Linked DNA regions of Homo sapiens. The protein of the gene in region 5 interacts with the protein of the main gene of each other region in a pairwise test. Each region holds a gene or a part of one and is shown on either strand. Other genes may lie near its edges.

The links.
Region 1: the proteins of TMEM128 (region 5) and ARL13B interact in binary tests that used the Homo sapiens proteins (3 or more experiments, as listed by UniProt).
Region 2: the proteins of TMEM128 (region 5) and HSD17B11 interact in binary tests that used the Homo sapiens proteins (3 or more experiments, as listed by UniProt).
Region 3: the proteins of TMEM128 (region 5) and GORAB interact in binary tests that used the Homo sapiens proteins (3 or more experiments, as listed by UniProt).
Region 4: the proteins of TMEM128 (region 5) and TMPRSS2 interact in binary tests that used the Homo sapiens proteins (3 or more experiments, as listed by UniProt).
Region 6: the proteins of TMEM128 (region 5) and TMEM106A interact in binary tests that used the Homo sapiens proteins (3 or more experiments, as listed by UniProt).
Region 7: the proteins of TMEM128 (region 5) and SLC7A14 interact in binary tests that used the Homo sapiens proteins (3 or more experiments, as listed by UniProt).

The regions. Positions count from the first base shown.
Region 1 is NC_000003.12:93,982,971-93,987,353, reverse strand, and holds part of ARL13B (ADP-ribosylation factor-like protein 13B), read right to left. Parts: intron 1-4,383. UniProt on the Homo sapiens protein: Cilium-specific protein required to control the microtubule-based, ciliary axoneme structure. May act by maintaining the association between IFT subcomplexes A and B. Binds GTP but is not able to hydrolyze fit; the GTPase activity remains unclear.
Region 2 is NC_000004.12:87,377,296-87,381,678, forward strand, and holds part of HSD17B11 (estradiol 17-beta-dehydrogenase 11 precursor), read right to left. Parts: intron 1-4,383. UniProt on the Homo sapiens protein: Can convert androstan-3-alpha,17-beta-diol (3-alpha-diol) to androsterone in vitro, suggesting that it may participate in androgen metabolism during steroidogenesis.
Region 3 is NC_000001.11:170,551,340-170,554,807, reverse strand, and holds the end of GORAB (RAB6-interacting golgin), read right to left. Parts: intron 2,794-3,468; coding exon 2,346-2,793; 3' UTR 974-2,345; downstream 1-973.
Region 4 is NC_000021.9:41,463,457-41,467,516, forward strand, and holds the end of TMPRSS2 (transmembrane protease serine 2), read right to left. Parts: intron 2,698-4,060; coding exon 2,686-2,697; coding exon of another isoform or gene 2,664-2,685; 3' UTR 849-2,663; downstream 1-848. UniProt on the Homo sapiens protein: Plasma membrane-anchored serine protease that cleaves at arginine residues. Participates in proteolytic cascades of relevance for the normal physiologic function of the prostate.
Region 5 is NC_000004.12:4,237,986-4,242,368, forward strand, and holds part of TMEM128 (transmembrane protein 128), read right to left. Parts: intron 2,495-4,383; coding exon 2,336-2,494; intron 1-2,335.
Region 6 is NC_000017.11:43,214,218-43,217,933, reverse strand, and holds part of TMEM106A (transmembrane protein 106A), read right to left. Parts: intron 2,147-3,716; coding exon 1,993-2,146; intron 1,486-1,992; coding exon 1,345-1,485; intron 1,238-1,344; coding exon 1,194-1,237; intron 676-1,193; coding exon 622-675; intron 254-621; coding exon 133-253; 3' UTR 1-132. UniProt on the Homo sapiens protein: Activates macrophages and polarizes them into M1-like macrophages through the activation of the MAPK and NF-kappaB signaling pathway.
Region 7 is NC_000003.12:170,579,071-170,583,453, forward strand, and holds part of SLC7A14 (solute carrier family 7 member 14), read right to left. Parts: intron 1-4,383. UniProt on the Homo sapiens protein: Imports 4-aminobutanoate (GABA) into lysosomes. May act as a GABA sensor that regulates mTORC2-dependent INS signaling and gluconeogenesis. The transport mechanism and substrate selectivity remain to be elucidated.

The DNA.
Region 1 (4,383 bases), on a different chromosome or scaffold from region 5:
TATCTTATCTCAGAATTCCTTTTTATATAACGGATATACAAATTAATATATCAGAAATACTGGTCAGGCACAATGGCTTATGCCTGTAATCCCAGTACTTTGGGAGGCCAAGACAGGAGGACTGTTTGAGCCCAGGAGTTTGAGACCAACCTGGGCAATATGGTGAGATCCTGTCTCTATTTAAAAAAAAAAAAAATCAGAAATATAAGCATCATGGCATTAGGGAGGATTGAACTTAGAAAACATTTAAATTCTGAATCTTTCCTGAATGACATTATCACAATCATTTGAACACCTACAAGTCTAAACTTCCTCATCTTTTAACTAAGGAAGACAATACTTTCAATATGATAATTAGATAAAAGCTATTCCTTTTTTTTTAGAGACGGAGTCTCATTCTGTCACCCAGGCTGGAGTGTGCAGTGGCGAGATCTCCACTCACTGCAACCTCTGCCTCCTGGGTGCAAGCAATTCTCCTGCCTCAGCCTCCCAAGTAGCTGGGATTACAGGAGTCTGCCACCATGCCTGGCTAATTTTTTGTATTTTTAGTAGAGACAGGGTTTCACTATGTTGGCCAGGCTCATCTCGAACTCCTGACCTCAACTGATCCATCCACCACGGCCACCCAAAGTGCAGGGATTACAGGTGCGAGCCATCATGCCTGGCCCATAAAAGCTGTTTCTAACTTCAAAAATATTATGCAAGTCAAAGAAAACATTTCGCTAAAAACACTAAAATCAAAGTTTGACACATCGGAACTCTATTATCTACAGTATTTAAAACTACATGAAGCAAATTCTAAATTTTAACATAAACATAAATTCTAAAAGTAACAAATACATATACAAAAAAAGACTTTAGAACAAGGTTTTATGATACATATGTGAGAATTTTAAAAAATCACTATACGACAAATTGATAGAAAGAAAAAAATGTATCGAAAAAACAGTGTGATTTTATTGCAGTACACTATTTTCTGACATTTCAATTCAGATCTAGAACCCCATATTACAGCAAAATCATTATCTAAATTTACTGAGTATGAATAAATAGTGAGAAGGCCAAGCTTGGGTTTATAGCCTGCTTTTAAGCCCTGATCAAGTCAAATTCTTAGTGTCCATTTTTTCATCTCTAAAATATAAGGGGGTAAAATAAGAATGTCTCTAGGTCCTTTTCTATATTAAAATTCTAAAATTCTTACTATGCATAATCAAGAAGAACTAGGGGGATAAAAAGAGATGTAAAATATTCCAGTTCAGCATACAGCACAATAGATAATCCTTGCTAATCTGTACATACAGCTTAATTGGAAAATTAAGAACTCAGCAATTTCTATAAATGGTCTAGATTTACAGTTATATTTATTTAGGCCAAGAATGATGGTATTAGGGAGCTAAGTATTCCCTCAGTGAAAAAGTTCATAGCAAAGAGGACAAAACAGACCACTAGAAACATTGTGTACTGTATCTTATTTTAGACTTGGCCACAGCAAACAATTTACTAATAAATTTGAAGTAAAGCTTTGATAGGTTGTATTTGTGATGCTGAAAAAACACAGATGGACAAGAAATCAGTTCCAATTAAAGGTTAACTCTGTGGAAGAATGGTGGGAGATGAATAGGGGGCAGGAAGTTTCAAGGATTTGTTACCTACTTATTAAAATAAAATTGAAATATGATGACTAAAGATTAATATTTATAAAACCTGGCAGGCATATGGTACTTATTATATCTTTCTTTTTGGTTAAATAACAGTAAAAACATTTTTGTTAGTTATGTATGCATAATATATAAGAAGTTATATAACATGTATATTTTCATATAAACAAAGAATTTTGTTGCCAAAATTTGTATGCAAAATTTGTTGCATGAATTTCTTCAAGACCCAGGTAAAATTACACCCCTTCTAAAATCCTCTTTCCTGATTCTCATTAAAAATCTTAAAAATCATATTTCAACTCTTGCATATTCGATCATTATATTTTACATGCACTATTTCATCACCTAGATGCTATGTTATAAATAACAGGAGCTCAAAATCTGTAGATGAGAATGTGTAAGGGTTAGAATCTGCTATAAGGCCCAGAGATTTACTGAGCATCATAGCTTCACAGACCTTGTGTCCTGTACTCAGGATGAAGGCTGCTCCCTATAAGCTAAATAGATTGCAATAGATTAACAGTTTTTAATGTTAAAAATGAAAATATAAAACTACAAGAAAAAAGTATATGTGAATGTAATCTTGTAATGCTGATGAACTTTCTAAACATTACACTGAAACAGTAATATATTTGAATTTAAAATTTTTATTTAGTCTTATTGATTGATTGATTGATTGATTGATTGAGACAGGGTTTCACTTTGTCACCCAGGCTAGGCTGCAGTGGGGCAACCTGGGCTTACTGCAGCCTCCACCTCTTGGGCTCAAGCGATCCTCCTGCCTCAGCCCCCCAAGTAGCTCGGACTACAGGCACATGCCACTACTTCTGGCTAATTTTTTAAAACATTTTTGTACGGATGGGGTCTCACTATATTGCCCAGGCTGATCTCAAACTCCTAGGCTCAAGCGATCTTCCCAAGTGCTAGGATTACAGGTGTGAGCCACCACACCCAGCCTGAATTCAAACATTTTAAATGTTTATATTTAAAAAGCACAAAAAGTTGAAAATATAACAAATGGAAAGAAAATACTTGCAATATTATACAACTGATCCTTGAACAACACACGTTTGAACTGCACAGTTCTACTTACACACAAATTTGTTTTTAATGAAAGTTACACGTGTGCCTTCCTCTCCTGCCTCCTCTGCCTCCCCAGCCTCCATTTCCACCTCTTCTGCCTCTGAAACCTTCCTGAGACAGTAAGACCAACCCCTCTTCCTCTTTCTCCTCAGCCTACTCAATGGGAAGAAGATGAGGATGGAGACTTTTATGATGATCCACTTCCACTTAATAAATAGTCAATGTATTTTTTTCTTCTTTTTAATTTTTTTTTTTTTAGACAAGAGTCTTGCTCTGTCGCCCAGGCTGGAGTGCAGTGGCATGATCTCAGCTCACTGCAACCTCTGTCTCCCAGGTTCAAGTGATTCTCCTGCCTCAGCCTCCCAAGTAGCTGGTATTGCAGGTGCCCACCACCACACCCAGCTAATTTCTGTATTTTTAGTAGAGACAGGGTTTCGCCATGTTGGCCAGGCTGGTCTTGAACTTTTGACCTCAAGTGATCTGCCCACCTCAGCCTCCCAAAGTGCTGGGACTACAGGCGTGAGCCACCGTGCTCCGCCCCTTATGACTTTCTTAACATTTCCTTTCCTCTAACTTTAAGAATACAATAAATTATACATATAACATAAAAAATATGTGGTAACTGACTATTCATGTTATCAGTAAGGCTTCTAGTCAACAGGAGGCTATTAGTAATTAAGTTTTTTGGAAGTCAAAAGTTATATGTGGATTTCTGTCTGTGCTGGCAAGGCAGGGTTCAGTGCTCCTAAACCCTGCGTTGTTCAAGTGTCAATTGTACTACAGAGAAACAGTAGCTACGACAAACACTTAAAATTTCTTTTTAAAAATTCATTAAGAAAACACACCTGCCCCAATAGAAAAAACACAACAGTAATCAATGGACAACTGCTGAGAGAAACAAAAATGCGCAAGGAAAAAAAGTTAATCTTCCTAGTAATAAAAACAAAACAAAACAAAAAAAACCCCAGAAACTCAAAGCAGAAAGCAGGTTCCCCTATAATGTGAAGGAGATGAAAAACCGATGACTCTTGATTTTCTCAGTGAAAAAGGCACTCCAACGTACTGTTGGTAGGAGTAGAAACTGTGTTTTCTCTTTTTTAATCCTTTCTGAGGAGCAATTTGGTAACATATTTTTAAAAGATAAACTTAGGAACAATAAAATTTCAAGAGTTTATTTCCACATTCATTGATTCATGAATGGAGCCGTACCAAACTGAACCAAAATTCATGAATGGGGCCATACCAAACCCCAAATAAGTGGGGTTCAGTACTCCACTAAGGGGGATGAAGCGTTAAACTTTTATAAGATCTTGACTGCTGACCTAGACTGGTGCCTTAACACTTGATCTCTGACTCCTGCCTTGTCCTTATCACACAAATCTAATCCCTGATTCCAATGTCTGGAATAATATGCTCACTAGGAAAGGATCTAAGTGAGGAGAGGTGAACAAATACAATGGGTACTGGGGTACAGAATGTATTAAACAAATCTGCAAAGTAATCTCAAATATAGTATATTAATAACCATCATCATCTCTTTTACAAATTCACTCCTCACATTTCATCTTCATAAAATATAAACATGAAGAGGAATCTTAATAAGAAATTCTACAGAAAACAAATATATACATAATAATCAAAC
Region 2 (4,383 bases), about 83 Mb from region 5:
AAAAATTAGCTAGGCGTGGTGACGTGCACCTGTAATCCCAGCTGCTCAGGAGGCTGAGGCAGGAGAATCGCCTGAACCCGGGAGGCGGAGGTTGCAGTGAGCTGAGATTGCGCCACTGTGCTCTAGCCTGAGCGACAGAGCGAGACTCTGTCTCAAAAAAAAAAAAGACTATACTCAAAAGGGGACCATTACAGGTAATGTAACTTTTTTTCAAAATAATTGTTATATCTTCTGGACTAGAATATAATCAATAACTATCTCTTCAACTAAGAAAGATCATAGAATCTTGATGCTTAAGCCCTACTTTTTATAAGATTGGAGTACCATAATTCCAAGGGGTAGCAATGCAAAAATACCTTATATGAGATTTTTATGGTTCCATAAGCAACTAAGATGCTTGGGCGGATAGACCCTAGCGTCCTAATGCATTTTGTTATACACTGTGTTTCAAATGAAACCTAGCTCTATTAACAGAGTTATCATTATTTAGAGATAGTGCTACAGTGTGTTGGGGGACTGAGGGAAAAGTGGCAAATAGCCTATGAGGGGCTTTTACTTTGTTATGCATTTACATGATTTCATTATTTTTCTTATTGAATTCTCACAGTAACTCAATGAGACAGCAATTCTTATATGCTCACTTTAAAGATGAAAACATGAAACAGAATGGTTGAGTTTCATACCCAAGGTCACATGGCTATTAAAAGATGGAGCTGGGACTCTCCCAGATCTGTCTGACGTCAGAGCCCAAGACAAGCCACCCCAAACAGAAAGGAGGCCATGGGCAAAAGTCTACCAGTACTCCTGTAGGGCATCAATCTGCCATGCTGAAGGCTCTTCAGTCAGAATTGAATTTCATCAGATTATATTTACGTTAGTAAAGTGTCAAGCTAAGTTTTTTGACCCTGATCAACACCATTTATACCTATATACTATTTTATATTACCAAAGGATTTTCCCAGACACTCTTGACCCTTTCTTCATCATTGCCTATTACCTCCCCAGGATATGAATGTCTGTTTTGTATTTTTTTGTATTAATTTTGTTTTTAAATTTTTGTGGGTACATAGTAGTGTATATATTCAAGGTTACATGAGACATTTTGATACAGGCATGCAGTGCATAATTATCACATCAGGGTAAATCAGGTATCCATCCCCTCAAGCATTTACCCTTTGTGTTACAAACAATCCAATTATACTTTTAGTTATTTTAAAATGTACAATTAAATTACTATTATTAATCATTTTTACTAACAAAAAATTCTTTATGGCTGCTCCTTGCAGAGCAGGGCTAACTCACAGGCAGTGCAACCAGAGTAGCCTATTTGTTCTAATTTTTGGTACCCATTAACCATCCCTACTTCTTCCCTACACCACCTCTACCCTTCCCAGCCTCTGGTAACCATCCTTCTACTCTCTATCTCCAAGAGTTCGATTATTTTAATTTTTAGCTCTCTCAAATAAGAGAGAATATGTTTTGCGTGTATATATATATGATTTTATATATATATATAAATATAAAATATATATATAAATATATATATATAAATATATATATAAATATATATAAATATATATATATAAATATATATATATAAATATATATAAATATATATATATAAATATATATAAATATATATATATATATATTTATATATATATATTTTTTTTTTTTTTTGAGATGGTGTCTTGCTCTGTTGTCCAGGCTGGGGTGCAGTGGCATGATCTCAGCTCACTACAACCTCCGCCTCCCAGGTTCAAGTGATTCTCTCACCTCAACCTCCCAAGTAGCTGGGATTACAGGCACCTGCCATCATGCCCAGCTAATTTTTGCATTTTTATAGAGACAGGGTTTCATCATATTGGCCAGGCTGGTCTTGAACTCCTGACTTCAGGTGACCATGTTGCCCAGGCTGATCTCGAACTCCTGAGCTCAGGGGATCCACCCACCTCGGCCTCCCAAAGTGCTGGGATTCTAGGCATAAGCCACGCTCCAGCAGATATATTTCTATAAAGCATTATTTGCCTCTTCTAGATACAATTGAGATGTGCTGTATATAATGGGGTTTCACTCTGAACGCATTCTTGCTTGTACCTAACTAACTACCTTAATGTCAACAAGGTCATCAGAATTACTTGGGCAGATTCCTGGATATATATATAATATTTATATTGTTATATTTATATTATATAATATATATTATATATACATATATAATATGTACATATATACATATACAGCATTATATACATATACATCTACATATACATCTCATATATACATACACAGCATTATATACAGCACAACTCATATATACATATATGTATTATATTACACATATTATATGTATATGTATGTATATTATATATTAATAGTATAATATAGTATTAGTATACTATACTATTATATTAGTATATAATAATAGTATATACTATTATTAGTATACTATAGTATAATATAGTATAACAGTATAATATAGTAATAGTATATTATAGTATAATATACTATAGTATTATAGTATTAATAGTATATGTATTATACTATTATATATGTATATGTATATGTATTATACTATTAATTATTATTATACAGCACATCTCATATATACATATTATATTATATATTTATATATACTATATAAGTATATAATATTTATCAGCCTGTATATATATATTACAGGTATCTGCCTGTAATCCCAGCTACTCGAGAGGCTGAGGCAGGAAGATTGCTTGAACCCAGGAGGCGGAGGTTGCAGTGAGCCAAGATCACGCCACTACACTCCAGCCTGGGTAACAGAGCAAGACTCTGTCTCAAAAAAAAAAAACGTTCTGATACTAAAATGATACTAAAATGGCCACCTCAAAACAGCTACTTCAAAATATCTGATTCTCAGCTTGCTTTCATTATTAAGAAATATACAAATCCCAGCACTTTGGGAGGCCAAGGCAGGCGGATCGCGAGGTCAGGAGATCGAGACCATCCTGGCTAACATGGTGAAAGCCCGTCTCTACTAAAAATACAAAAATTAGCCATGCGTGGTGGCGGGCATCTGTAATCCCAGCTACTCGAGAGGCTGAGGCAGGAGAACTGCTTGAACCCAGGAGGCGGAGGTTGCAGTAAGCCAAGATCACACCACTACACTGCAGCCTGGGCAACAGAGCAAGACTGTCTCAAAAAAAAAAAAAAAAAAGAAAAAAGAAAAGAAAAGAGAAAAAGAAAAAAAGTTCTGATACTAAAATGGCCACCTCAAAATAGCTACTTCAAAATATCTGATAATGGGCTAGGCGCGGTGGCTCACGCCTGTAATCCCAGCACTTTTGGAGGCCGAGGGAGCAGATCACGAGGTCAGGAGATACAGACCATCCTGGCTAACACGGTGAAATCCCGTCTCTACTAAAAATACAAAAAAATTAGCCAAGCGTGGTGACGGGCGCCTGTAATCCCAGCTACTCCGGAGGCTGAGGCAGGAGAATGGGGTGAACCCGGGAGGCGGAGCTTGCAGTGAGCCGAGATCGCACCACTGCACTCCAGCCTGGGCGACAAAGCTAGAGCTAGACTCTATCTCAAAAAAAAAAAAAAAAAAAAAAAAAAAAGAACTCAGGCCAGGTGTGGTGGCTCACGCGTGTAATCCCAGCACTTTGGGAGGCCAAGGAGGGTGGATCACTTGAGGTCAGGAGTTCCAGACCAGACCACCCTGGCCAACATAGTGAAACCCCATCTCTACAAAAACACAAAAATTAGCCCGGCATGATGGTGCGTGCCTGTAATCACAGCTACTAGGGAGGCTGAGGCAGGAGAATCGCTTGTGAACCCGGGAGGTGGAGCTTGCAGTGAGCTGAGATCACGCCACTGCACTCCAGCCTGGGCGACAGAGTGAGACTCCATTTCAAAAAAAAAAAAAAAAAAAAAGAACTCAAACCAAAAATTCCATAAACAAAGAGGTTCTCAAGTCTTGCTGAATCACACTTTTTATACTGCACTGAATTAGAATATCCAGGGGTAAGGTCCAGGAATGTGTATTTTAAGGAATCTGCCCAGGTAATTCTGATGACCTTGCTGCCATTAAGGTATTTAGTTAACAGGTACAAGCGAGAATGCGTTCAGAGTGAAACCCCATTATATACAGCACATCTCAATTGTATCTAGAAGAGGCAAATAATGCTTTATAGAAATAGATCTGCTGGGAGCGTGGCTCATGCCTATAATCCCAGGACTTTGGGAGGCTGAGGTGGGTGGATCCCCTGAGCTCAGGAGTTCGAGATCAGCCTGGGCAACATGGTGAGACCCCGTTTTCTACCAAAAATACAAAAAATTAGCTGGCGTGGTGGCACACACCTGTGGTCCCAGCTACTTGGGAGGCTGAGGTGGGAGGATTGCTTG
Region 3 (3,468 bases), on a different chromosome or scaffold from region 5:
ATTTTGTCACTTATATCATCACCTGAGCACTCTGATACCACCCTGGGAAAGCCAAGCAAGATAACATTTTTTCAAAATAATGGGTTCAGTGGACCTTTTACAGCCACATTTGAAAGCACTTTTCTCTCCCTCTCCCTCTCTCTCTCTCTCTCTCTCTCTCTCTCTCACACACACACACACACACACACACACACACTCTTCCTCAACGGGTTATAGAGCAAAATTTGCAAGTGGAGGGATGCAGTGCAGTGAACTTCACAGCCTGAAATATGTAAGTGACACACCTGGAATATGGAACTGCAACTTTACTAGCACTTTAAATTTCAAATGAGCCAGCTGGCCAAGCTGCTACTGAAATCTTTGGCTCTCAAATTCTTCACTATAAAATAAAACGAGGCTGGGCGAGGGGGCTCACGCCTGTAATCCCAGCATTTTGGGATGCTGAGGAGGATCACCTGAGGTCAGGAGTTTGAGACCAGCCTCGCCAACATGGTGAAGCCTCGTCTCTACTAAAAATAGAAAAATTAGCCAGGTGTGGTGGCAGGCACCTGTAATCCCAGTTACTTGGGAGGCTGAGGCAGAAGAATTGCTTGAACCTGGGAGGTGGAAGTTGCGGTGAGCCGAGATCGTGCCACTGCACTCCAACCTGGGTGGCAGAGTGAGACTCCATCTCAAAAAAATAAAAGATTAAATTAGATTATCTCTGAGGTCTCATCTAACTTATATTTTTTTCACGGTTCTCATTTCTTCATATATCTTTGAAGGGTTTACACTGAGAATTAAGATTGCACATGCCTGCATTTAACCAATATTATAAAACCTCACTGATAATGAATTTTCCTTAACAGAGGCTTAATAAAAGTAAGTAACTGTATGTACCACAAGGAGATCCAAGATGCATTATTGTCACACAATGCTTAATACATACTAAACTGTTTGAAATTTTTTTAAGGTAAATGAAAGACACTATAAGTACATCAGACTTGTTTATTCCTTAGAAAAAGAAGTGTGTTAGACAATGAAACTGTTGGCTTTTATGTATTTCATAAATAAAAGCACAACTATCTATAGAAATGCTTCTGTTTAGAGAAGTCAGTAGTAAAATGTTATACTTTCAACTCAAATTACATAATATAAAAATATAAAGCTCATCTATATTACCAGAAGATAATACCCTCAAACAAACCCATTTAAAAACAGGATGTCCCTAAGTTTTTCAGAAACTTTTATGGATACAATCTTATACTTGTGCTTATGTTCTCTGATAATAATTCTTTTTTTAAAAAAAAAAAGTCCTCAAAGGTAATATTTTTACTTTTTGGAATTTCTGATAAATAAATCATAATGTGATATTCACAGACTTTGTGAGAAAATTACAATATTTATTTACACATTTACATATAGCACAATGTATTGGTCAAGTACTAGTAACAGGCAATTAACAAACTAATAAGAAAATCAGCATTTTAACAATTTAAACGCTTCATGACAGGGTAATTCATGTCCAACATATCAAAAACATATTTATAGATAACTTTAGAAAGAAAATACATACTTTTTTTGATAATCACAAGTAGCAATGAGATTTTCTATATTATTTTCAGTCTCACTTTAGAAATGTTTTAATTGTCTAAATTTAATCAATTCATCGATTAAAGGAAAGACAATAAAATAGTAAAATTACATGTGTTTATATATAAGTGTGTGTGTTTCAAATAACAAAACGCAGGTTGTAAACTAAAATCACTGGAAGGCAAATTGAAGACAAAAGTGATGCTGGTTTAAGTTGTTTGGTTCTTCACATAAATTCCAGTTTCCAAGTTGTGTTTTACAACTCTAGTAATATCCAGATAGATAATTCAACCTGCAACTTTTTTCTTCTATTCCTGTTTTTCTCTTGTTCACACTGTAATTTTTGTCTTTTTACTGATACTGATTAAATAAAATAGGACTTCCAGTCTTAATACGTCTCCCAGGAGAAGTGAAATGAGTTTAACTAGGTATTGAGTATCATTTTCCATTTTACTTTTCTATATTTATCTGATCTAAAAACACTCCAACCATGTAGTTTTTCTTCCATCCTTTTAAGTCACTTACTTTCAGTAAAAAGGGTAAACGGAACACTGAAAGAACCGGGCCAAAATCAAGGTGAAACATACCCCTAGAAATACAGTTATCATAATTTTGGATTTTAGAATGGCCAAACCTATTAATTTACTAAAACTAATCATGAATTCAAAAATCAGCATTGTTTTAAAGAGGTTTTTATTGGAGGTCAGGGCATGATCTACTGCAAAAAGTATACTTTACTCAATACCATATTAGCTCAAAAGAATACCAGAACTTCATGTGGCCAAAGCAGCTGAAATGTCATTACCTTCTTGATTTGGGCAGTTTGGACTAAGAAAGGGGATGCTACTGGAATTTCCACACTGGTCATCTACCTTTGGGGAAACAGCTTGTTCTTGACACTTTCTGTTCTCTTTAGCAAATTCTAATGTCACACTCTCCTCCGCAGGCTGAAATGGCCTCTCTAAACGAACCACTGGTCTCCTTGATTCTACTTCTTGTTCGTGTAGCAATCTCTCGACCTCCACCTCAAGCTCCAAAGTCTCTTCATCGGCTTCTACATCTAGTTGTTGCATCAACTCCTCCAACTTCTTGGCCTTTCGGAGCTCATTTTGCTGTATGATCGTACAAAGGTGTTCAGTGAGTTGCTCTTTTATCTCAGTCTTGCGCTGTATATCTAGCTTTGCTGCAATGTACTCTGCTTCAGCCCTGTCAAACCGCTTCCTGTAAGGATGTGTATAAAGATAGGTCCATCAGTTTTCCATTGAAGAAGATATTCAAAAGAGGATCTAGAAACAATAACTCAACTCCAAAATTGGGAAAAAATATATAATGAAGATACGGATATTACTACTTTACAAACACTTGTCTACATGTTGGCCAGACTAGGCTATGGCTGCTGAAACTTTCACAGTATCCTTACTTGAATTCACCTAATGAAAACATGTTATTCTGCACGAATGTTTTCTTTACAAAGCTGTTTTTGAGTGAAGGCAGGCTAAAAGGTTAATTCAGTGGTATGCTAGTTCTGGGGTGGGAGGATGGGGAGCCCTGATTTGTAGCGTTTACATTTCCATGGGATAATTACTACCACCCTGTCCAATTTCAAGCCACCAACGTGATATTACTGAATGCAGAACTGGGAAGAGATACACAAAATCCACATGAACCAGGGTAAGCTAGCTTCAGCACACAGCTGGTTAAATTTATGAGAAGACAGACAAGAGATGGAGAAAGTGGAAAATTGTTCTCTTGATTAATAAATTAGAAAAAAAGAAAAATTCTGATGGAGAAAGATACGGACAGTGGTCGGGAGATGAATATAAATGGAACAGAGCACACCCAGCAAAATGATACTGGGTGAGGGCAAGAAGTAAACATCAAGTAGAAAACCTCAGG
Region 4 (4,060 bases), on a different chromosome or scaffold from region 5:
AGGGCCACCATTCTCCAGACCCCAGAATGGTAGATCCACCAACAGCTTGCACCATGTGCCTGGAAAAGCTGCAGACCCTCAACACCAGCCCATGATGCAGCCAGGAAGGAAGCTATACCTTGCGAAGTCACAGAGGTGGAGCTGCCCCAGACCATGGGAACCCACCTCTTGCATCAGTGTGACCTGGATATGACAGATGGAGTCAAAGGAGGTCATTTTGGTGCTTTAAGATTTGACTGCCCTGCTGGATTTTGGACTTTTAAGGGGCCTGCAGCCCCTTTATTTTGGCCAATTTCTCCCATTTGGAATGGCTGTATTCACCCAATGCCTGTACCCCCGTTGTATCTAGGAAGTAATTAACTTGCTCTTGATTTCACAGGCTCATAGGTGGAAGCAACTTGCCTTGTGTTGGATGAGACTTTGGACTGTAGACTTTTGACTTAATGCTGAAATGAGTTAAGATTTTGGGGGACTGTTGGGAAGACCTGATTGGTTTTGAAATGTAAAGATACGAGATTTGGGGGGTGCAGGGGCAGAATGATATGGTTTGGCTCTGTGTCCCCACCCAAATCTCATCTTGTAGCTCCCATAATTCCCATGTGTTGTGGGAGGGACCTGATAGGAGATAATTGAATCATGGGGGTGGGTCTTTCCTGTGCTGTTTTTGTGATAGTGAATGGGTCTCACAAGATCTGATGGTTTAAAAAATGGGAGTTTCTGTGCACAAACTCTCTCCCTGCCTGCTGCCATCCATGTAAGATGTGATTTGCTCTTCCTTGCTTTCTGCCATGATTGTGAGGCCTCCCCAGCCATGTGGAATTGTAAATCCAATAAACTTCTTTCTTTTGTAAATTGCAGTCTTGGGTATGTCTTTATTAGGAGCATGGAAACAGACTAATAGAATAATAAGAAGGAGTCATTTGAGGGACCTCTCCAACAGGACAGGCTGCAGGAACTGAGGGCACCAACCACAGGAGCACCAAGTCTGGCCTTGCCTCACCTTTGGTCCTCTGACCAGCAGCCTCAACATCACCCCCTTATAAGGAAATGGAGGCTGGTCCTACTCACCAGGCAGAACTTCAAAGATGCAGTAGTTACTTTGAAAAAAAAATTGCATAATTTATTTGCATGATATTCATTTTCACAATTGAACTTTACAGTTTAAAAAAGATACAAAAAAAGACAAACAGTTGTTCACATAAATAAGAAGGGGCAATAAAGAAGGAAGACGTTTTCACCATTACAACACCTTTTAGGATGTGTCTTGGGGAGCAAGCACCTTACAGTGCCAACTGTTTCCAAGGTCCCTGGGAATGCTGCTCTCTACAGAGGCATGTGCACAGACAGATCCTGCAAATGGGATTGCATGACTTTCCATTTCAAGGTTAAGTCCTAGCTGTAGAATCATTCATTTCATTCTTGCAAACCAGCCTGCTTGGCCAGGAGGCAGAACCATGGTAGAGTAGTGCTCATGGTTATGGCACTTGGCAATGCAAAAGGGACCCTTCCCCTGGTTGGAAACCCACAGCATTGGAAGGGACCACAGAGAGTCCAAAACAAAACACATCTTTCTCTTCTTCGCCGCCACCATGGGCACTTTGCTTCAGCACATTCATTTATAGAACGTTAAGTCAGGAGCCAGTCATTTTGTCAAAGCAGCTGAAATAGGCCACCACTCTTACTTGGCAAAGATGATACAGTTTCAAAGAGTTAAATGAAGGTGGACTACTTGGAGACATCAAAAGCTAAGTTTCCAGGAGCACTGAGGTAGCAATGTGTAGAAACATAACATGGAAACAGTGTACCTTAAACTGAGCATCCTTGATTTCCCCCATGGACCTCAATTTCCAGTGACTAGCAGGCCTGAAGAGGCCAACATGGTGCCAGACTTGGCGCCCTGCCAGGACCAAGGGGCATGTGCACTCTCCAGGGTGCTAGGAGCAGGGTCAGGGAGGATGAGGAGGAAGGCTGAGTCTCCCTCCCAGGAGCCCCACCCAATGTGCAGGTGGAGACCTGCACCAGGAGTGCTCAGGGCAAGTTCCTTTTCAATTGCTTCCCTCGCACCAAGGGCACTGTCTATATTCTCACCCCATAAGAACAAAAATGTTTCTGTTCCCCTTACAAGTGACTACCACGTCACCACCCATGAAGGGCTGGTCCCTTTATTTCTGGCCACCATCCAGGGCTGCTAAGGCTCTAAGAACCCATCAGCAAAATCCCCTTGTGGAGAGGTAGGCTGGGGACACTACCAAGTGGCCCCAGAGGGCAGCCGCTGCAGGTGCCACCTGGCTGTCTCCCTTTCCATGTCTCTCCTTTTTCATCTCAAGTCATCCAGCAGCTGAGAGGTGACAGCTCCATGCTCATCCAAAATTGGCCCCTGGAAAGGACTCAGCAGGAAGATCTCAATGGGGCAGCCTCCACCCCTCTCCTCCACACTTGACCGCCAGTGCCCACAACCAGCCGGCCATCACCCCTTGCGGACAAGGGGTTAGGGAGAGCAGGCTGGGCAGGGGAGCCACTGCAGCCTGCACAGAATGGCAGAGAGTGCCAAAGCCAGACAAGTTCACTGTTTAATAAAAATGAAGTGACCTCTGAATCATCTCTAAGAGTAAATCATGCACGGGGAAGCAAAACCAGCCCCATTGTTTTCTTGTAAAACGACGTCAAGGACGAAGACCATGTGGATTAGCCGTCTGCCTGTTCAAATAGGAAAAAAAAAAGTGTGTTATTTTCTTAAGACAAACAAAGGTGGAAAATAATTTTTTCCTCTAGGTTCGCATGAAGCACTTAGAAACCAAATAAGCAAGCTTAATAGCACAAAGGGATCATTCTTCTCTCCAACGTGTTGGTCAGAGTCAGGCTGAGCATGGCGGGGCAGGAGCTCCGGAAGGAGCGGGCAGCGGATGTGGAGGCCGGCACAACAGGCATCTCTTCAGCAGAGTCTGGGCCTCCCCCGGCTGCTCTCCTGCCACGCAGCCCTTCCCTCCCTGCACAGCCATGCGGACCCACCTGCAGCCGCCAAACACACCTGGATCATTTCCTAGCTCCATCCTGGTGCGAGTCCGCCCCTCAGCCTGGCTGACCATCCCAGCCCTGCCAGCTTCCCTCCTGCCCTGCCTCCTCCTCCTGGGGTCATCTGTTTCTAGCACTGGGCCCTGGGCCAGGTGACGCCCCCTGGGCCCCATGGTCATGGGAAGGCCCTGAGTCCCGCGTGTCATTTGAAGGAGACACAGGTCGGGCCTCAGCGGGAAAGGCCCCCTGGTTCTGCTCCTCCTTCAACAGACTGGGCATCTGGGAGATTTGGGAGAAGACAGAATAGACTGCTTTCTTCCACTAGTAGCCCAGCCCCAGAAAGCACAGAAATCTGAGAAAACTATACGTCTGAGGTCCTGGAGATGAGAAGATCTGGTTCTCACCCCCTATCTGGACAATGCCCAAAGCCAGGGCTCTGCTAAGCAGAGACATCCATGAGGCTCACATGGAACCCCTGAGACCTTCCCTCGTGCTTGAGTCTGGGGCATCAGAGAACCCTGGCTGCTCCTGCCCTTCCTAACCTTGGGGGCTGCCCAGGAGCCACTCGATGGCCCCAGAAAAGGATGGGCACAGCCGGCTCTTCCCTCTGCTCTCTATAAATCAAAAGTTTCATGTGAGGCCGGGCACCGTGGTTCACACTTGTAATCCCAGCACTGTGGGAGGCTGAGGTGGGTGAATCACCTGAGGTCAGGGCTTCGAGACCAGCCTGGCCAACATGGAGAAACCCCATCTCTACTAAAAATACAAAAAGTAGCTGGGCGTGGTGGCGCATGCCTGTAGTCCCAGCTACTTGGGAGGCTGAGGCAGGAGAATCACTTGAACCCAGGAGGCAAAGGTTGCAGTGAGTCGAGATTGTGCCACTGCACTCCAGCCTGGGCGACACAGTGAGACTCCATCTCAAAAAAAAAAAAAAAAAGTTTGATGTGAGGTGGCCTGGGTGGAACAGCTGAGTCAGCTGAGCCAGAACGAAGTGTGGTTGGCAGAGCACCAAGGAATTTCACACAAGCTGAGCCCCAGCGCTTTTCAT
Region 5 (4,383 bases):
ATTTTATTCTAGAATCCAGATTTAAAGTATTCAATGTAGAAAAGTTCATCCAGTCAGCAACTTTCTCTATGTATCATATTTCTCAAGTATGTGACTTAGCCAATGCTGGAAAGGAAAACTCTAGATATACTTAAACAAGTATCACAATTTCTTCAAGAAGGCCCTGGAACTGGAACCACTAAAGGTCTCCTAATAGGGGTTGACATGGCTTAATAGAAACTGAAGTCTCTTAGTTTCTGACTTCAACAATAATTTAAATGGCTACAGCCCATTTTTATGACATCACACACTAAACTATCATGGTAAAAAAGACCAAAATATTGTCTCTTAAAAACAGAATGAAAACAGTTATCACTTATAAGCTGCTATTATATCTTTCATTGAGAAAAACACTATTCCTGTCATCAAAGTAAAATTAAAACACTAAGTATAAAGATTTTTAATGACTGAAATTTCTAAGAACAGAATAGGGAAAACTATATTCAAATAAGTTCAGATGGTTATTGGTTTTAATATATAATAGTTTGATAAGTATGAGTATTAAATAACTATAATCACAAATCACACTGTCTAAAAAATTAACATTTCTGGACATGATCTTACCCTCATGGGAAAAAGTAAAACAACGTATCTGCATGCCCCCACATACAGGTTAACAATAACCACATCACACTGTCAAACAACCTTGAACTTCAACTACAGAAAATAAGTCATAGAAAGAATATGTATAAAGGTATATGGTTCTTCCAAAATAAAAATTCAATTAGGCCGGGGGTGGTGGCGCACGCCTGTAATCCAGCACTTTGGGAGGCCAACACAAGCAGATGGCTTGAGGCCAGGAGTTTGAGACCTGCCTGAGCAGCACAGCGAAACCCCATCTCTACAAAAAATACAAAAAATAGCCAGATGTGGTGACACATGCCTGTGGTCCCAACTACTCGGGAGGCTGAGTGAGGCAGGAGGATCACTTAAGCCTGGGAAGTCGAGGCTGCAGTGAGCTGTGATCATGCCACTGCACTCCGGCCTGGGTGACACAGTGAGACCCTATCTCCAAAAAGAAAAAAAAATCCAATTGATATAAAGAAAGAAAAAACTAGAGAGCTGCACACAACATAGGAAAAGTAGTTTTCTTTCTGGTTGAATCATAGGATATATTTCCTTTGTGTTTTCATGTAATTTACAGATTTTTTTTCCTCAGTGAGCAAGTATTACTTTTATAAACCCAAAAAACCCTGTATTTTTCATTGAGTATTTAATTAACTTATGAAGAAGGTTATTCATTGTGGCATTGTTTGGGTATAAATATAACGAAGTCCAACAACAGAAGACAGGTTAAATAAATCATGTTATGTCCATGCTGTGAAAACTATGCAACTGTTTAAAAAAATGAGACACATCTATATGTACCATTATGGAAGAATCCCAAACTATAAGGATCCACTGAAAAACAAAAGGAGAAAAGGACAAACAACCACTTTGGAAAGCAGTTTGGCATGATTTACTGAAGTCAAAGGTACGTACATCCAACAATTTTACCCCTTGGGGTACATATATATACATATATACATACATCTCTACACCCAACAGAAATGTGTTCACTGTGCTACAAGAGCCATGTACAAGAATGCTCTTTATAGCATCCTTCATAGTAACCCCAAACTGAAAAAAATCTAAACACAATCAACAAGGGAAAAGAAAACTGGGATTCAATTAAACAATGGAATGCTAAAGAGCAATGAAGATGAGTCACTGTTCCCGGCGACAATATGAAAGAACTGCACACAATGCTGCACACAGCCAGCTCAATGTGAAGGAATACACCCTGTACAAATCCATTTCTATAAAGTTCAAAAGCGTAGCTGAAACAAAAATAGAATATCTAATGGAAGCAAAGCAAGTAGTTACCATGAAGGTCAGGGCAGTATTTACCTGTGGCAGGAGGGAAGGTGTAGTAACTGGGAGGGAGAATGAAGGGGGTTCCCAGTGTGCTGGCTCAGTTTACACCAATGCTCACTTCATGAGAATTCATTCACTAATTCATTCATCTCAGTTTTTTTCACTTTTCTATATGTACTGTATGTCATAATAAAATAGATTTAAAAAGCAAAATGCAGAATATGTACAGAATGTCACCATCTGTGCTTTAAATAACTAGATCCATAAATAGAAGGAGAAAGAGATACTAATCAAAAGGGAACCAGAGAGCATGAATGACCAGGAGACTATTTTTCTGTTTTAACTTTTTTTCTTTCGAAGTTTGGACCAAGCATATCACTATCTGATCAAAAAAAAAATTTGTTGTTCATTCCTGTTAGTCATTTCAAAGTTAACTTACCAAATTCCTGCTGCAATAAAGGAGGCAGTGGTAATGGGTATCAAGGCTGGATACTTGACATCATATTCTCCAATTCCACAATACCATTCCAGGTAGACTATGCAGTAAAATGCAATTGATAAACTGACAAGCAACAAGGCACTGCCACAGAGAAACCAGCTGTGGAGATAAAAACAGTAAGAGGTCTGACAGCACTTAATGAATCGTCACATATCTTAAAAGTTTTTACTAATAGCTTAAAAATCTGCTTCTAAGAATATCAAGTGTTGCAGAGGGAGCCATACTTAAACAATCCATGCTTTCAGAAAGTCTCAATCTATGGGAGATGGGGGTGAGAAAAAGAGATACACAACTCAGGAAAGAATGAAAAGTAAGACTTGAAATACATGCATTTATATATACACTCTCATCAGCCAACCAACCAAGGGAAAATTCTGGTCATGACAATGCATTTTCTTTAAAAATACAAGGAAGAGGCCGGGCGCAGTGGCTCATGCCTATAATCCCAACACTTTGGAAGGCCGAGGCAGGTGGATCACCTGAGGTCAGGAGTTCGAGACCAGCCTGACCAACACGGAGAAATCCTGTCTCTACTAAAAATACAAAATTAGCCAGGCGTGGTGGCGCAAGCCTGTAATCCAATCTTCTTGGGAGGATGAGGCAGGAGAATCGCCTGAACCCAGGAGGCAGAGATTGCAATGAGCTGAGATGGCGCCATTGCACTCCAGCCTGGAGTGCCTGGGCAACAAGAGTGAAACTCTGTCTCAAAAAATAAAATAAATAAAAACAAAAATACAAGGAAGATAGTGGCTTTCTGGTTGTTTCTGAAGTTTTGAGTGTGACAGGATTAAAGAAGTTTATCAGTGGGAAACTTCATTCCTCCAAGTTAAGTGGACTTTCTTGGAATACTGAAAGACAATTAGGAAGATCAATAATTCAAATTTTCTCTCATAAAAGATTTCTAAATGAAATCCTCCCATTTTCAAAATATCTTCTACTCACCACCTCACCCTCAATGCCAATGCCTTTTTACTCCCTTCCAATTCCACCTGTGACCTGATTCAGCAAGAGTGAGGCAACCTGGACAACCCCTTCCCTCCACCCCAGCTGGACTTGGGGACTGAAATGCCTTTCCCATTCTCCCAACTCAATCCAATATCCCATCATCATCTGCTTCTCTATGGGAAAAGCCTGACAATCCATGTGGAAGAGAGAGGGAGAACAGATGGCTACAACAGATAAGTTACAAAGGCACAAAGTGAACTTCCAATAATGGCAAGGTTCCGGATTCCATGAAGGCTTTTTACGATGATGCAATTCTGAGATTCGGAGTCATGAGAGGCTGTAGAGGGAAGGGGTTAAGAGCACAGCCTCTGAAATCTGTCTGTATGGGTTTGAATCTTAACTTGAGCAAGACTAGTTTTGTGACTCTAGGCAAATTACCTAACCTCCGTGTGTTTCAGAAATATTGACAGTACTTAACTCAGAATAGCTGTGAGAATTAAATCAAGTGGTCAGCAAAGTGCTCCTCACAGCTGACTCTCAATCATAATCATTATTATTCCACTCAAGTTATTTTTATTTTCATTCATTTATTTCTGAGCCGGAGTCTTGCTCTGTTGCCCAGGCTGGAGTGCAGTGCTGCAATCTCAGCTCACTGCAACCTCCGCCTCCCAGGTTCACCAATTCTCCTGCCTCAGCCTCCCAAGTAGCTGGAATTACAGGCACTGGCCACCACGCCCAGCTAATTTTTGTATTTTTAGTAGAGATGGGGTTTCACCATGTCCATATTGGCCAGGCTGGTCTCGAATTCCTGACCTCAAGTGATCCACCTGTCTCAGCCTTCCAAAGTGCTGGGATTATAGGGGTCAGCCACCATGCCCAGCCATCACTCAAGTTATATCTATGAGGAAAAAATGTCCATGTTCATCTTTAGGAGTCTTCAAAGACCTCTCTTCTGCTAGAGCATGCAATCTCACTGGGGGGAGTATCGCCCCCAAAGTGAAGAAAAAAATATGGCTCTAATTGTATGTATAAAGCATAGATAT
Region 6 (3,716 bases), on a different chromosome or scaffold from region 5:
GGGAGGTAAGGGTGTGATGAGGCAGGGCTTCTCCTTTGGCAAAGCCTCTGTAGTCCTTCCTTAGTCACCAGGGAGTTGTGGGAGATATAGACCAGGGTTGCAGGTGCCTGGAGTACAGGGACAGCAGACAGGTCATGGTGGGTGAGGGGTCAGCTGGTGGGGCACAGATGCGTTTCCTCGGCAGTCCACATATTCATAGCTCTGAAAGACCAGCTGCTCTGAATGGCTCAGGTATGAACAGGTCAGGGTGCCCCTGGAGAGGAAGCAGGCCTTGTTGCCATGGCTGGGAGGAAAAGGAAAGCTCTGGCCCCATTATACTGTCTGGGGGTGGGGAGCGGGGAGCTCCCTCATTTGCCCTTCCCTCTGGCTCCCCACTCTGCCAAGGTACCTGGGACAGCTGCCCCACCTGTTTTCCAGCAGCTTCCAGACAGCCCTATGCCTGTTGCCCCTAATAACTTATAGGCAAGGTGAGACTCAGAAAAGGGGCTAGACTTGCTATTCCCAAGAGCCAACAAAGATTCATGGGGTCAGCTTGGAAGACTCTCTGCCCATGAGGTGTAGCTGAGTGAGAATGAAGTCAGAAGTGAGAGCAGGGATACCAGAGCTCCAAGCTCTACTTACTGGATGTGCAAAAGCACATGGTGGACTTTGATTTCCAGCCAGGTACAGATTTTGCTGAGAGAGAAGAAAAGAGAACGTGGGACCACGTGTCACATGGAGCAGCCTGTCAGCTCAGAAGATGCCTGCAGGTCCCAGTTTCCTTACCCCACAGAACTCTTTCCTTCCATCAGGTGCCCCCAAAATGTCACTCCCACCCCTTCCCACCCTTCAGGTGAGTGTAGCAGCATGGCTGCACTATCACTCTGACCTCCACTCACTTGGCCCAGGCACATGCTGGACCCCCATTCAGGAGACAGACAAAACATTCTTCTTCCTCAGCAATGCAGGCTGAAGAGCCCAAGGTCACATATTGTAAAGATTAACCAAATTCCAGCCTGTTTTTCATTCTAATCAAGGTCCAAACAAGCAGAGGCTGGGGACCCTGAACCCTTGCTTATTACATTCTCGGCCATGGGAGGGCAGGCCAGATGCTGGCTGAAGAATTTGCTAAGCAATCAGGAAAGCTGGTGGGTATTAATTGGGTCCCTAAGCCAGGCAAGTGGCTAGGGGAGAAGAGATCAAGGGGTACTCACTATGTGTTTTCATCCCGTATCTTGGTAGCTACTGCGTAAAACATCTGTCAACCAAATGGGCACAGGGTTAGCCCCAACTCCAGCTGCCCCTTTCCCACTACCACACATCCACACACCAGTGGGCAGGGCTGGCCAGGGAGAGGGGAGTCACCTGTTCACTGGCCAAAGGGCCAATGTGTAGGAGAAGGTTGTTGGAAACCTGCCCCACCACGAGGGACAGGTGCAGAACCTCGAGGGTCAGCTGTGTCACCATAATGGGGTAGTAGTTGCCATTGGAGATGTTTAAGATATTCTGGGGATGAAGACAAGGGAAGGGAGGAGTGAAGATGGCCCATCCTTAGGAAAAGCCAAACAGTTGCAAAAGCCTGGCTGTCTGGCCTGAGCCCCATCTACCATGACAAGCTTCAGGTGCAGAGGATGAAAACTGGGAGCCCCTTGGAGGGGCATTGAATGGTGAGGGGTCAACTTTACGAAGTTAAGCTGCCTCAGGATCCAGGTCCATCCTGTACAGCTTCTTTCCATTCAGTCCTGTCCATCCAGAGAGTCTCAGGCACTGTCACCCCACTCCACCCCTGTGGTTTACTTATCTGGCCCGGATTCTGACCCCTTACTGTGTAGAGTCCCAATCCTTACCATCTGTCATGGAGCTCATGGTTGCTCCTACTTCTCTTCAGGCTCCCAACACCCTCTGGGTGCCATAAGATCTCTGGCTTCCCATGCCCAGGGTCATAACACTGGACAAAGGTTACAGCGAAGTATTGCTAGGAAGGGGGGTTTGGAGCCAAGGGCACCCACCCACCGTTATGTTGAGGTAGATATCAGCCTCATCAAAGGCCACTGTGGAGGAGTTGAGGCCTGCAGGCTGCACAATGACGGACCGGGGAAACAGGAAAAAGACGATGAAGGAGGAGGTCACCAGGCAGATGAGCACGGCCAGGAACACAAAGAGCTTCCTGTGGGAAAGCAGGACCCAGGATGGAGGAATGGAAAAGTCTGAACACCAAGGAAACTCGGAGAGGGGGTTCAGACACTCCTCTCCATATACAAAGCTTTCCCCTGCACACTACCCCAACAACATTTAGCTCCCCAGATGTGGCCCGGAATGAGTAGGAGCACAGGATTGGCAGGCAGGCAGCCTGGTTTCCACTCCCAGATCTCTGTTCCCATTGACCCAATAACATGGAGCAGCCCACTTAGCCTCCTTAAGTCTCAGTTTCCTTGTTGGTAAAAGGCAGATAATTGTACTGACCTCACAGAATTTGTTATCGGCTAATATATGAAAAAATACTAATCACAGGTCCCTGCACATGGCAAAAGCACAATGAATGCTAGTTATTATCACTAGAAGAAATAAGTCCATATTTGGAAGTTCTGAATTTTAACATTCAGAACAGGACACCATCCATCCAATTCAAAATTCAGATATGCATTAAAGAGATAGTACTTTGTTAGTATCTTATGATGTGCACTGCTAATTTCTTTTTTTTTTCTTTTTTTTGAGATGGAGTCTTGCTGTGTCGCCCAAGCTGGAGTGCAGTGGCACGATCTCGGCTCACTGCAACCTCCACCTCCCGGGTTCACGCCATTCTCCTGCCTCAGCCTCCTGAGTAGCTGGGATTACAGGTGCCTGCCACTATGCCCGGCTAATTTTTGTATTTTTAGTAGAGGCGGTTTTGCCATGTTGGTCAGGCTGGTCTCAAACTCCTGACCTCGTGATCTGCCCGCCTTGGCCTCCCAAAGTGCTGGGATTACAGGGTTTTTTTTTGTTTTTTTTTTTTTTTCAGATGAGGCCTCGCTCTGTTGCTCAGGCTGGAGTGCAGTGGCATGATCTTGGCTCACTGAAGCCTCCACCTCCTGGGTTCAAACAATTCTCCTGCCTCAGCCTCCCAAGTAGCTAGGATTACTGGTGTCTGCCACCACGCCCAGATAATTTTTCTATTTTTAGTAGAGACAGGGTTTCGCCATGTTGGCCAGGCTGGTCTTGAACTCCTAACCTCAGGTGATCCGCCTGTCTTGGCCTCCCCAAAGTGCTGGGATTACAGGCATAAACCACCACGCCCAGCCTGATTTCTAATTCTGGTATAGTGGGGTGGCGGAGAGGGTTCGGCTTGGTGGTGACTCCCAGGTTGACACCAGGACCTTGGGAGGAGGTTGAGGGAGCTCCATGTCAGATGGACTCAGATCACAAACACAGTAGGCCCCAGGTCTGCCTGAGGTTCTGAAGTATCCCAGAACAGCGGACAATAGGTTTTTCATCTCTACTAGAAGAAAAACAAGCAAATCTGAACTGCCTCAGCAAGGGAGGTGCTTAAGAAAAATAACATTTTCAAATCAATTGCAGCCAGGGCCACATGCTTGTTCCCTCCTTCCTGGGAGGACTTGCAGAGCTACCAGATCCTTCCTGTCTTGGAGAGGGGGCCATGCTTTCTGGAAGCAGTGATGCTTAAGGAAGCCCACCAGGTGGCCTCAAGTGACATCTGCTGTGCCCACAGCTGCTGCTTTTTTCTTTCTTTCTTTCTTTTC
Region 7 (4,383 bases), on a different chromosome or scaffold from region 5:
CTTTGAGAAAAGATAAACCTGAATCTTTGATAAACTCATAGACTAAACAAGTTTTCATGACTAATGAAATGATGCATGATGTTAAAAAATGCAGAGTGGGTTCTATAATTGCCTGAGAGAGAGAAGACTCAAGTCATATTCCTCTGACATCAACTCAGGTGAGTGTTCCCAGCATCAATTTCTCTCTAAAGTGAGAGAGTTCAGTTATGTGATTGTTATAAAATATTGACATAATAATATGTTGTATAATCTCTAACAAACAATTAAGCCTTTCCATTTCTGAAGACCATTTTGTCAACAGAATGTTTAAACACCTGGGTGCAATTGTTTCTTATTTACTGATTATTTTTCAAAAACATGGAAAAATTTTTTTAAAATGAAGAGAAAATGAGAACCAGCTTGATCATTTGTTGTTCATTGGGTTGGAATATTTTGCCTTTGGCAAATAAGAATCAGTTAATTCTAGGCGTTTCCTTATTGACTTGCTAGAATAGAATGAGCTGTTTTTCTTTCATTTTTGTCAGTAATCACCAGTTAAAACCGTTAAAGGGAAGCCTTATTATTCCTGGAAAAGGATAATATTCTGTAAACCATCAGACTGCAATGTCGCTAGTTCTCCTCTAATTAATATATGTGCTTTCATTCTAAGCTAAGCTTCTTCTGAATTTAGGAACAATAGCAATTGCCTGCTGCTATCATGAAGGCCAGCCAAATACTTTCTGAAGGAAATGACAGGTATCTCTTCAAGATAAGAGTGGAAAAGAACACACAACTCCATTTAAGCTTTGAGTTTCTGAAGTTGCCTCATCACAGTGAAATGCAAGGCCCTTGGGCTGATTTGTGCTTTGTTTTCTGGGTGAAGCAGCAAGACACGGTTCTCAGGAGTAGTCTATCTTGGCCATCACTATTTATGCCCCGAGAAGGGCTAGAAGTGTGGTTATTAGGGTAAGATTTGATATACTGTGTTTGCCTCCTGTTTTATTTGCTAAAGGAAAATGCCATAGGGAATACTGAATTCTTGGTAGAGATAGACGAGTGTATGGCATGAATTAACCTGGAACAATGGTCTGAATTCACCAAATATTTATTGATCATCCATGTGTTCCAAACATCCTTAACCACAACATTTTTGTGTCAAAATAGGACATTCTTCAACTATGTTATTGATTAAATGGATGATTGTATGCTATTAGGATTTGTTTCAAAGCTACATTGTCAGTTCTCTTTATCTCTTGGGATCTACAATTAGAGAAATCCTTTAAGCTACAGACAGAGAAGAACTCTTTTCAGCTCCAAGGTAATGGCATTTTCCCCTTTCCAAAATCCAGGTCTTTCCAAGAGGTAAACAAGTCCAATGAAGTGAATAAATCATGACGCCCAACAACATATGTTTATTGTTAAAGCTAGCATCATCTACTAGAGGCCAGAGTTAACAGCTTCGCTTATTTTTCCTTCAGTAATATAGTCCCATATGCAACAAAGGCTTGAGGACAGCAGGCTTGACCAGAAACAGTGGCTAAGTGTATATCTCAACTATTTACCTGGCAGAGCATCTTACAAGGTAGCATCTATACCTTTGTTAACTCTAAACAAAGGTAAACTAGATCTCTGGAACTGGAGATAAAACCTCATGCCCTTGGTCATACTCAGCTTGATTCTCAGGTGCTTTGTTAATGAATGAATGAATAAATAAAGTGACTTCGTTGAGTTTTCAAGATGATAAAACCTAATAAATACAGTGAAGAAACATCTGATGGAATAGCTTTGTTTCCAGGCTTATTTTCTACAATATCTGAGCACTGTGTTAATCTTTGTGTTATAAGAGAAAAATATTTAAGTATCAAAATCGTGAGCCACTATAGAAGGTATGGCTGCATCTGAAAAGCAGTTTTACTTGACGCATAAATAGCATACACAGATCAAAGTGCGGGAGTAGGTCATAGATGCCAGGTTTGGGAGTAAATGTTAGCCAGATGCATAAGGTTCTCCTAATGACCCCAACAGATTTCAACTTAGAGAATGAATAAAGACTTGTTATTTAAGGTTAGAATCCCTAATGCAAACTCAATAATTCAGTCAAGTTAATGACCTTCACTTTTGTTTTGGTTTAATCAATGCATGAAATAGAATTATTCTTGTTCTGATTGATCTATGAGAATGGATAGAAGCTCATTTCAATTTGTAATTAGTAAAAATATGTTTTGAAAATTATCCCTCTCACCCCCTCACACTGAGGAATATCCATAATGCTTGTATTTTGTTATTTCTGAACCCCTATTACCATGATGGGTTCATTATTGATGATTACTTAAAAACTATTAGTTAAAAGGTAAAAGCTGTTCCAAACAACTTAGATTTCCTAGTTATTATTTTTTTTAATCCTGAGAAGAAAATGTTCAGGACCAAATAAACTAAACAACAAACAATGCACGGTATTTCAATTAATAGAATCTAACCAATCAGAAATTTCAATAACTAAATTTTTTCTTCACCGTTCCACTTTTCAGTGAAATAAATGACCACAAAGGCAAAAATACAGTCATATCAGATTAAAATCATTCAGAAATGCATTCAGCCTGAACTACCCTATTTGTACATTGTACCATATCTATATAAAATAATAAACCATTGCAGATTCAATCATGCTCCTTACAAAGTACTTTCGTATACCTACACTTTGAGTTTTACAATAGTCCTTTGAGATAGTTATGGCAATTCTCATCAACATCTTAGAGATGGAGAAATGGAGCTCTAGAGGGCCTCATAATGTCACCAAGTAGTATGTGACACCTGTACTACTGACTCCAAGTCTTATATTCTTTCCATGTCTATCATACTATGATTACTAAGACAAGATAAACACACACACATGTTATTACATATACATGTAATCTATAAACTTGGATTTTGAATTGGAACTTTCAGATTGTATCTAAGTCAAAATTCATGAAACCAGCAAACCTCATTCATGGAATATTTTACTTTATAGTAACATAGAATTCATATGAAGCAAACTCCAGAGGCTACCAGCTCCTTAAGTAAGACATGCACACTCCTTCATAGCCTAATTGTCCTAGGTATCTTTGGGCTACTGGTGATGTATTAGGCATAAGTGGCTTTTTCTTTCTTTCTTGGCAGAAGATTCAAAGAAGAGTAGGTCCTTACTTCTTCCCAGTTCCTAGTTCTTGGTTGCTGTGAGGGTGTGTTTAGTACTGTCTAAAGCAGCATTTTTCAACACAACTTTCTTAAATGATAAAAATTTTCTGATATCTGCCCTGTCCAACACAGTTGTCATTAGCCATATAGAGTTATTGAGCACTTGAAATATGACTAGTGTGACTGGGGGGCTAAATTTTTAATTTTAAAAAGTTTAATTAAAATTTAATTATAAATAGTTACATGTGGCTAGCAACTACCATGTTGGACAGAGCAGTTCTAGACAGTTTAAGGTTCTGGTTCACAGGGCCCAGAGCACCTCAGCAATAGCATTCTTGACAGATCACCTAGTGAAGGTACAATAGAAGTTATGTATTTAATTACAAATTATACCTTAATTGGCTCTAGAGAAGGTTTGAAGCAGAATGTTGACATTATCAATAAGAAGCCATATGGGAATTTTTAAATAAGAGATAACAAATGGGGAGAATATGTTTGGTAAATATTAAGAGATGAGAGAGCAAAACAGTGTCATTTGAACTGAATTTGAATTTCTAAATGCTATGTTTTGGAGCAGGATGGAACTATCAATTAAATACAAAAATCCAATTGATGAAGATGAGACTTTACTATGAGCTGGAAAGAGAAGAAAGAGGAAATGAACAGAACATCAGGTTCTGCTGTATGTTAGAGCGAACTAGAATCCTAGGACCATCTTTAGTGGAGCCACCTACTTGACAGAATTGTGATAATTCAGTAAAATGATTGATGAAATAACTTCACATAGTGCCTCACATATGATAAGCATTTCATAGATATTAGCACTTATAATGATCTTTATTTATAAAAATCCTTAGGTCTTATTAGGGCCTTTTCCCAGTCCCTATGAGAACATGGGCAGTTGCTTAGGGTAACCAATTTTGGGAAAATTATTTTTTGGGGAATAGGTCATAGAAGAGGAGATATAGACAAGATAGGGCAAGTAAAGAAATGACACACTACCATTCCCATTTGTGAATTGCTGCTTCAGAGAAAACTGTTACTGAGGAAGGTGGGTCATATCTCCCAGGTATGTTGGGTTAGACAACACTGGAATAGTAGGACCAGAGGGGAAAGAGCTGGAAGACAAAGGAGTTGGAAGAAAGGTAAGAGGAATGCTTGTATGTTAAGTGTTTGTATTTTTGGCATGTTGTTTAATTTAGTTCACTGATGCTGACGTTTAGTCAA